Linked DNA regions of Homo sapiens. The protein of the gene in region 1 purifies or fractionates together with the protein of each later gene. This does not show direct contact. Each region holds a gene or a part of one and is shown in the gene's direction. Other genes may lie near its edges.

Region 1 (3,500 bases):
TGAATTCTGGCAGAGGAACCCTGAGCATGGGGTATGGACCCAGGCCTGGCTCGGGTCTCCGCAGGAGGGGGTAAGAGCGACAGAGTCTCCGTCCAGAGTGACCCTCCAGCGTCTCGGGCCTGGCCTCTGCGCCCACCCCCTATTGCAGCACCTGGATGGGTCTCCCTGGTTCTGCATTTTCCACAGCAGGCAGAGTGCATTCCAAACCCTGCCGGGCCGAGGCCTGCACCTTCCCTGCTCCATGCCCTGCCCCAGACTCTAAGGCACACCTCCCTGCTATTTCCTCTTTCTGGAATGCTCTCCCCTGTTCGCCCCTCCCAACCCCTGTCTGTTTTCTGGTCCCCACTGCAGTGGCAGCCAAGGAGCCAGATGCTTGCAGGGGAGCCATGCTCCTGAGCAGGGCCGGCACCCTTCCTTTCCCTCCCACTCCACCATCTGCAGGCAGGAGAGTGGAGGGTGCCAGGCAGGGGAGAAGGTGTGCCTGGATCGTGGCACCACACTGGGTGTGCATGTGGCCACCTGATTCCATGGCAGCCCGTGACCCTGAGCCAATCCCAGAGGCTCGGCCTGGAGCTGCGGGGTGACCCTGAGCCCGGGCAGCAGCAGGATCAGGGCAGGGCACTGGTGGGTGGAGAGCTGGGGGTATGGGCAGCATGACCGGCAGTGGGTTTGCCCTGACACCCGAATGCCGCTGTTTAACAGGTCGGTGTGCCCGCCTCTGCCACCGGGTCCTGGTGGCTTTGTCCACAGGCCCTTCTCCCTTTCTCCCTGGCTCCTTCTCTGCTCTTGGGGATGGGAGGAGAAGGAAGGAGCGGCTACTGCTTCTCTCCAGTCGATGAATATGCACTAAACATCCATTCTGTGGCCTGGGCCAAGTGCTGGGGGGATACGCAGGGAAGGAGGAGCAACTTCTGTTCCCCAAGAGCTCCCAGTCAAGCTGGAGGAAGGAGTTCCAGGGAGGCATAAAGACATGTCTGTATGTCCTTAGCTCAGCATAAGGAGTTTCACAACAATCTGAATTCACCAATGAATGGAACGAGTGGATGAAGATGGGGGCTTCAATCTGCTTGAAAGAGCCTAGCAAACAAAGATACTTCATGGTGGATGGATGGATGGTTGTGTGGGCAGATAGAGGATACATTGATGGATGGAAGGATGGATAGCTGGACAGATGGATGGATGTGTGGGTGCATAGAGGATAGATGGATGGAGGAAGGATGGGTGGTGGGGTGGATGGTAAGCTGGCCCTGCTGGGAGATGCCGTCTACAGACTGGGTGTGAAAGGCGCTGCCCTGCGTGAGGTAGCAGATCTCCATGTCTCTTCTGTGTTGTGATTATTGTGAGCATGGGAAGAGCACATTTGGTCACACATGTCCGTGCTCCCACACACAGCCTTTCCTGTGAGTGTGCCTCTCATCTAGCACCCAGGGCCCCCTTCCCACCAGCGCCCGCTCCCCTGTGATGAGGCCTGGGTACATCAGCACATGCCTAGCCCCTGTGCCCTCCCTGCACCAGCCCCTCAGTTCTCCGGAGCCAACTGGAGAACCTGAGCCTCTAGACCCACTGCTGTCATAGTCACCCCCTTTTGGTCACGCCACTGCCTTTTCTTTTTTTCTTTTTTCTTTTGATACTAAGTCTCGCTCTATTGCCCAGGCTGGAGTGCAGTGGTGTGCAAACTCCGCCTCCTGGGTTCAAGCGATTCTTGTGCCCCAGCCTCTCAAGTAGCTGGGATTCCAGGTGCCCACCACCACACCCAGCTAATTTTTGTATTTTGGGTAGAGACAGGGTTTCACCATGTTGGCCAGGCTGGTCTTGAACTCCTGACCTCAGGTGACCCGCCCACCTCGGCCTCCCAAAGTGCTGGGATTGCAGGCGTGAGCCACCACACCTGGACCCCACTACCTTTTTACAAGGCCTTCAGTGGTTTGGCCCCAAAGGGAGCCTAGTGGGGGAATTCAGGTGTGGAGGAGGACATTAAGGGCCCCCAAAGTGCCTTTAAATGCAAGTCAAGCCACCCAGGATGTGGCCAGACCCACAGGGGCTGTGGAAGCGCAATCCCTAGCACAGAGCATGCCCCAGGCCTCGGGGCACTGAGTCTGTTGGGGAATGGGACACCTGGGCCTGCCCTGCAACCTGGCACCTGCGTCTTTCCTGAGCCTCACTTTCCTCCATAGTATGAGTTGCTCATTGGACAGGATGAGAGTTTGCAAGCTGGTGGCCTTCGGGCTGAATCCAGCCTGCTCACATGCAGGGTCTAAAGTGGCTTTCATGAATTGTCTATTTCTAAAAATTAGGATATTTCACATACGAGTCAGGATTTCTGGCTTCTCTTGAAAAAATTTAAAAATCTGACAGGCCTGGGCCCCTCCCTGTTACTGTCACCCACCTCCCAGGTGGACTGGACCCCACCTGCTGCCTGCCTGGCCTGGCAGCCCTGGGCTGGCTACTCTCTAAGGGTCCCTGGGGAGAGGGCGAGAAGATGAGGTCGGCCTCCTCCCGGGCTGTGACATCCTCCCTGGCCATGACGTCCTCCCTCTCCATCCCCTGCCCACAGCTTCACGCAGGCCATGCTGAGCCAGCCCAGGATGGAGAGCCTGGACACCCCCGCGGCCTACAGCCTGGGCCTCGCGCTCCTGGGACTGGGCGTCGTGCTCGTGCTCTCCAGCTTCTTTGCACTGGGGTTCGCTGGAACTTTCCTAGGTAAGACCCTGAGGGCTGGGGTGACCCTGAGCAGGACCGCTGGAGCCCCAGGGAGGTGCAGGGCCAGGTGGCTGCTGCCCTGCTATCCGTGACATCGGTGGGAGTGCTAGGGGCCCCCTCCATCGGGGCGTCTTTGCTCCTCCAGGCCTGGCTTGTCTGTGGTTAGAACAGGAGGCTGGGCTCCAACAGCTCCTCTTACCCCAGCGTGCTGAGCGGCTGCCTCCTGGGGAGTGAAGGCAGCTCCTGCTGCTTCTCTCCAGCTAATGAAGATGCACTCAATGCCCGTTCTGCGGCCCGGGCTGGGTGCAGGACTCCTTGAGTCCAGCTCCAGCACCAGCTCCCCCTTGCAGAAGACTCTCAGGCCTTGTTGCACAGAAGCCTGAGGTGGTGGTGAGTCAGCCACCTCTCTGGCAGCTCCCGGCACGCGTGGCTCTCAGGCCAGGCAGGATTGTGGTTTGTGCCGTGTTTGGCCGCAGGCAGGGCTGGTGTAGGTCTGGGGAGGGGTGAGGGGTGGAGGCACCTTATCCCTTCTCCATTTCCCTCTGCCTGTGGCTGAGGTGCTTTCAGGCTGTGAGCCCAGTGCTGGCCTGGCTAGACGCCCACCAATGACCCTGATGATGGCAGCAACTTCCAGCTCCTTGGAATCTGGGAAAGAAAAGCAGCCATGGGAAAGGCAGTAGGGGTCGGGGTGGGAGGGGAGATGGGGGCAGGGGTGGGGGACAAGAGGGGGCCTTCGGAACCTGGAAGGAGAGAAGGAGGCAGTCCCTGTCCAAGGGGAGCCCCTCCCAGTGAGCAGGGAG
Region 2 (3,500 bases), on another chromosome or scaffold:
CTGATGCAGGTTCTCCTCCCAGCAGCTGCCCCTCTCATTCTCCTAACACACAGCTTTCATGACAGGCATGAGCACTGGACTGGAAGTCAGCAGCCCTACCTTCTAGTCACTTATCTTCTGGGCCTCAGTTTCCCCATCAGTGAAATGAGGGCATGACTTTTGCTCATCCTGAGTGCTTTACCCACACTGGTTCCTTTCATCTTCTCCTCATCCCCACCAGATAGATGTCGATGCTGCGGCTGAGGGAGGCAGTCACTCGCTCAAAGTCACACACCTAATGAGTGGTGGGACTGGGATTTGAACCCAGTTGTCTGGCCCCAGGGACCACAGGCTCAAGTACCTTGCCACGGCTCCATCATGTTGCCCCTCCTGATCAAGAACCAGCGCTGGCTCCCCATTACATAGGGATGAAATGAAAACAAGCTCATTATAGCCTGAGTCTAAACTAGACCTCTTAAGGTTCCACGGTGAAAACACCTTCCCCTCACTTGTGTCTCCTCTTGGTGCCTTCCCTGGGGAACCTGCCCCAGCCACCCAGCCCACTGTCTCATCCTGCCTCCAGACCCGTTTCCTGCACCCTCATTTACTTTAATAACTCCTTCCCTGTCCTGGGCCAATGGTGTTGCAAGCCTTTCCTGTCTATTATCACACTTGAGTTTCATGATTGCCCATGAGGTTGGCCAAGTAGGTGTCATTATCCCACTTTAAGGTGAGGTTAATGGGCCCAGAGAGACTAAGTGATTTAGTCAAGCTCAGCTGGCCGATGTGTGACCCAGCCTGGTCTAAAACCTAATTCTTGACTCTGGTCCCAGCACCACCTGAGCCCTCGGCTTGCAGCCCCTCCCTTCCCCAACCTCAGATGTAGCTTGTTCACCTGTGCTAAGCCCTTGTTCAGACCGTGGTCCTGGGGACCCTCCTGGGCAGGGGTGCTTCAGTCTTCACTGGGGATCCCCCAGCATCTCACACAGAGCCTGGCACATGGAGAGGCAGGGGCGCTGGGCTGAAACACCCTACACCCAGGGGCTGGAGCCTGGGGACTGAGTGGGGTTTTCATACCAGAAGGACCATCAAGGGCGCTCAGCCCTTGCCCATGGACACTGGAGGCCCAAGGAACAGCTTTGGGGTTGAGGGAGTTCCATAAAAAGTGTACAGGCTTCAGCCAGGCGCGGTGGCTCGCGCCTGTAATCCCAGCTGGGAGGCTGAGGCAGGCGGATCACTTGAGGTCAGGAGTTCAAGACCAGTCTGGCCAATATGGTGAAACCCTGTTTCTACTGAAAATACAAAAATTAGCCGGACACGGTGGTGGGCTGTGTTGTCCCAGCTGCTTGGGAGGCTGAGGCATGAGAATTGCTTGAACCCGGGAGGTGGAGGTTGCAGTGAGCCAAGATTGCACCACTGCACTCCAGCCTGGGCGACAGAGCAAGACTCTGTCTCAAAAAAAAAAAAAAAAAAAAAAAAAAAAGGCTTCCTTGGGAGATGGAAGGCGAGTGCCTCAGGAGCGTGGCTGAGGGTGTTCCCGAGGGTATGAGAGGCTGCTCTTCCTACCTGGGTTTGTCTTCCTGTGTCTCTTTCCGACTCCCTGTCTCTGACTCTCCATCTCGCTGGGTCTCTCCAAGTCTCTCTGTCCCTATCTCTCTGTCTCTGTGTCTTCATGCCTCTCTCCCTGGTTCTGCCATTTCCCCTGTGGGGGGCTGCCCAGGGCCAAACAGGCCAGAGGGCTCCACCAGCCCTGGAAATTACAGGCTTTGGGAGTAGGGTTGCCAGATAAAATAAAAGATGCCTAGTTAAAATTGAATTTCAGGTAAATAATTAATAATTTTTTTAGTATAAGTGTATCCCAAATACTTCACGGGAGTACCAAACAATGATTGACTGTTCACTTGAAATTCAAGTCCAACTGAGCTTTCTGTATTTTTATTTGCTAAGTCTGGCAGCCCTGCTTAGGAGGAGAAACAGGTGTGTCTGTCCCTCCCAACTGGTGAGGACACCTGACAGGGGCCCAGACACCAGAGTGGGACCTGCCTGATGGAGAGAAGCTTGGGCTTGGTTTATTTCCCTTTTCATAAAAAAGCTGCTTTGAGATGTAAGAGAATCATGTTGGTGGAAGAGTGAAGAGGTTGTTTTGGGGGAGGTCTGCCTTACTCTGAGGGAAGATGGGAAGCGGGGGGAGTGGCCAGCTGTGGAAATTTGGGGTAGTCCCCTACGTATCCTGTGCCTCAGTTTCCCCATGTGTAAACAGGAGTAATTATCTCATCCTGGGGCTGCAGTGAGGATCAGATGAGCTAATGTACAAAAAGGCTTAGGCAGGCCTGCCGTGATAAGAGTGCAGAGGCTGGGGGCTTTTTATGTTATGGTATTGTTGTTATTATTACTCCTGGGGAGGTGGTGGGCAAGAGTGTGGACTGAGGAGCCACATGGCTGGGTTTGGATCCCAGCCCGGCCACAGACCTTGGGCAAGTTACTTAACCTCGGCTTTCTCATCTGTATAATGGGAGACAATAATAGATAGTGCCTCCCTTCTAGGGTTATTGAGAGGATTGCATGATGGGCTGGCACACAGCATGAGCTCAGTAAGTGTCAGTCACTGTTATCCCCCAGGGGCATGCATGCCGCTGCCTCCAGGAGGCCCTCCAACTCGCAGTGGCCTCTCCCTACATGGGTTCCCACTGAGCTGTGATCCTGTGGCCTTGAGCCCCATCTGGCTGCCCTGGACAATGTTGGTCCTCAGCTCCCCAGCGGGATCAACAGTGGGGAGAGCAGTGGGTGGATCTGCCCGCCAGGCAGTACCTGAGTGCACAGTGGGCACCCCACAGTCAAAGGATGCATAGTCTGGTTTCCAAGGAGGAACCCCAGGCTAGGTGGAATGAGGGAAATGCAATCTCAGGGCCAGATAACATCACAGATACTTTAAACCTGCAATTAATTTCTGGTTGTTTGACCAAATCCGGCCAAGTTTCCCGGGTGACACTGCAGAGCTGTGGAACAGCATGGGCTTGGAGTCAGACCTGTTGCACATCTGGCTCTGCCATGTGATGCAACCTCAGGCTTGTCACGAGGCCTCCTTGAGCCTCAGTTGCTAATATGCCAAATGGGGATGATATTGCTCACCTTACAGCTTGTAAGAGTGGAGGGAGCTGCGTGCGCCAGGTGCCTGGCATGCAGCGGGCACTCAACCAGATTGAATTCCCTTCCCAGGGAAGAATTCAAGGATATCTTCCCACCCACTAAGGAGACATGTGATGGGATCTGGGGTGAGAATTGCTCTTTTTAAAGCTCTCAGAACTGTAAGGGGCTCCACCCACCAATGGCTGGTGTTCACTGAGCTCTTCGTGCCCAGACCTGCACTGGGGATTTATCGAGCACATGGCTGGCTTCTGACTTCCGAAGAGCTCGCCATTCTGGTGAGTGGTAAAGAAACTCACAAGGGAAATGTTAATGAACACAGGGGCTTAGAACATCAGACTGTGTGTATGTTTTTTTGTTTTGTTTTGAAACAGGGT

The links. Proteins that work in one complex are often made in the same cells at the same time.
Region 2: the proteins of PEMT (region 1) and PADI3 purify together in Homo sapiens (affinity purification with mass spectrometry; one large-scale study listed by BioGRID and IntAct). This does not show direct contact.

The regions. Positions count from the first base shown.
Region 1 is NC_000017.11:17,511,709-17,515,208, reverse strand, and holds part of PEMT (phosphatidylethanolamine N-methyltransferase), read left to right. Parts: intron 1-2,554; coding exon 2,555-2,700; intron 2,701-3,500. UniProt on the Homo sapiens protein: Catalyzes the three sequential steps of the methylation pathway for the biosynthesis of phosphatidylcholine, a critical and essential component for membrane structure.
Region 2 is NC_000001.11:17,255,598-17,259,097, forward strand, and holds part of PADI3 (protein-arginine deiminase type-3), read left to right. Parts: intron 1-1,648; exon of another isoform or gene 1,649-3,401; intron 3,402-3,500. UniProt on the Homo sapiens protein: Catalyzes the deimination of arginine residues of proteins.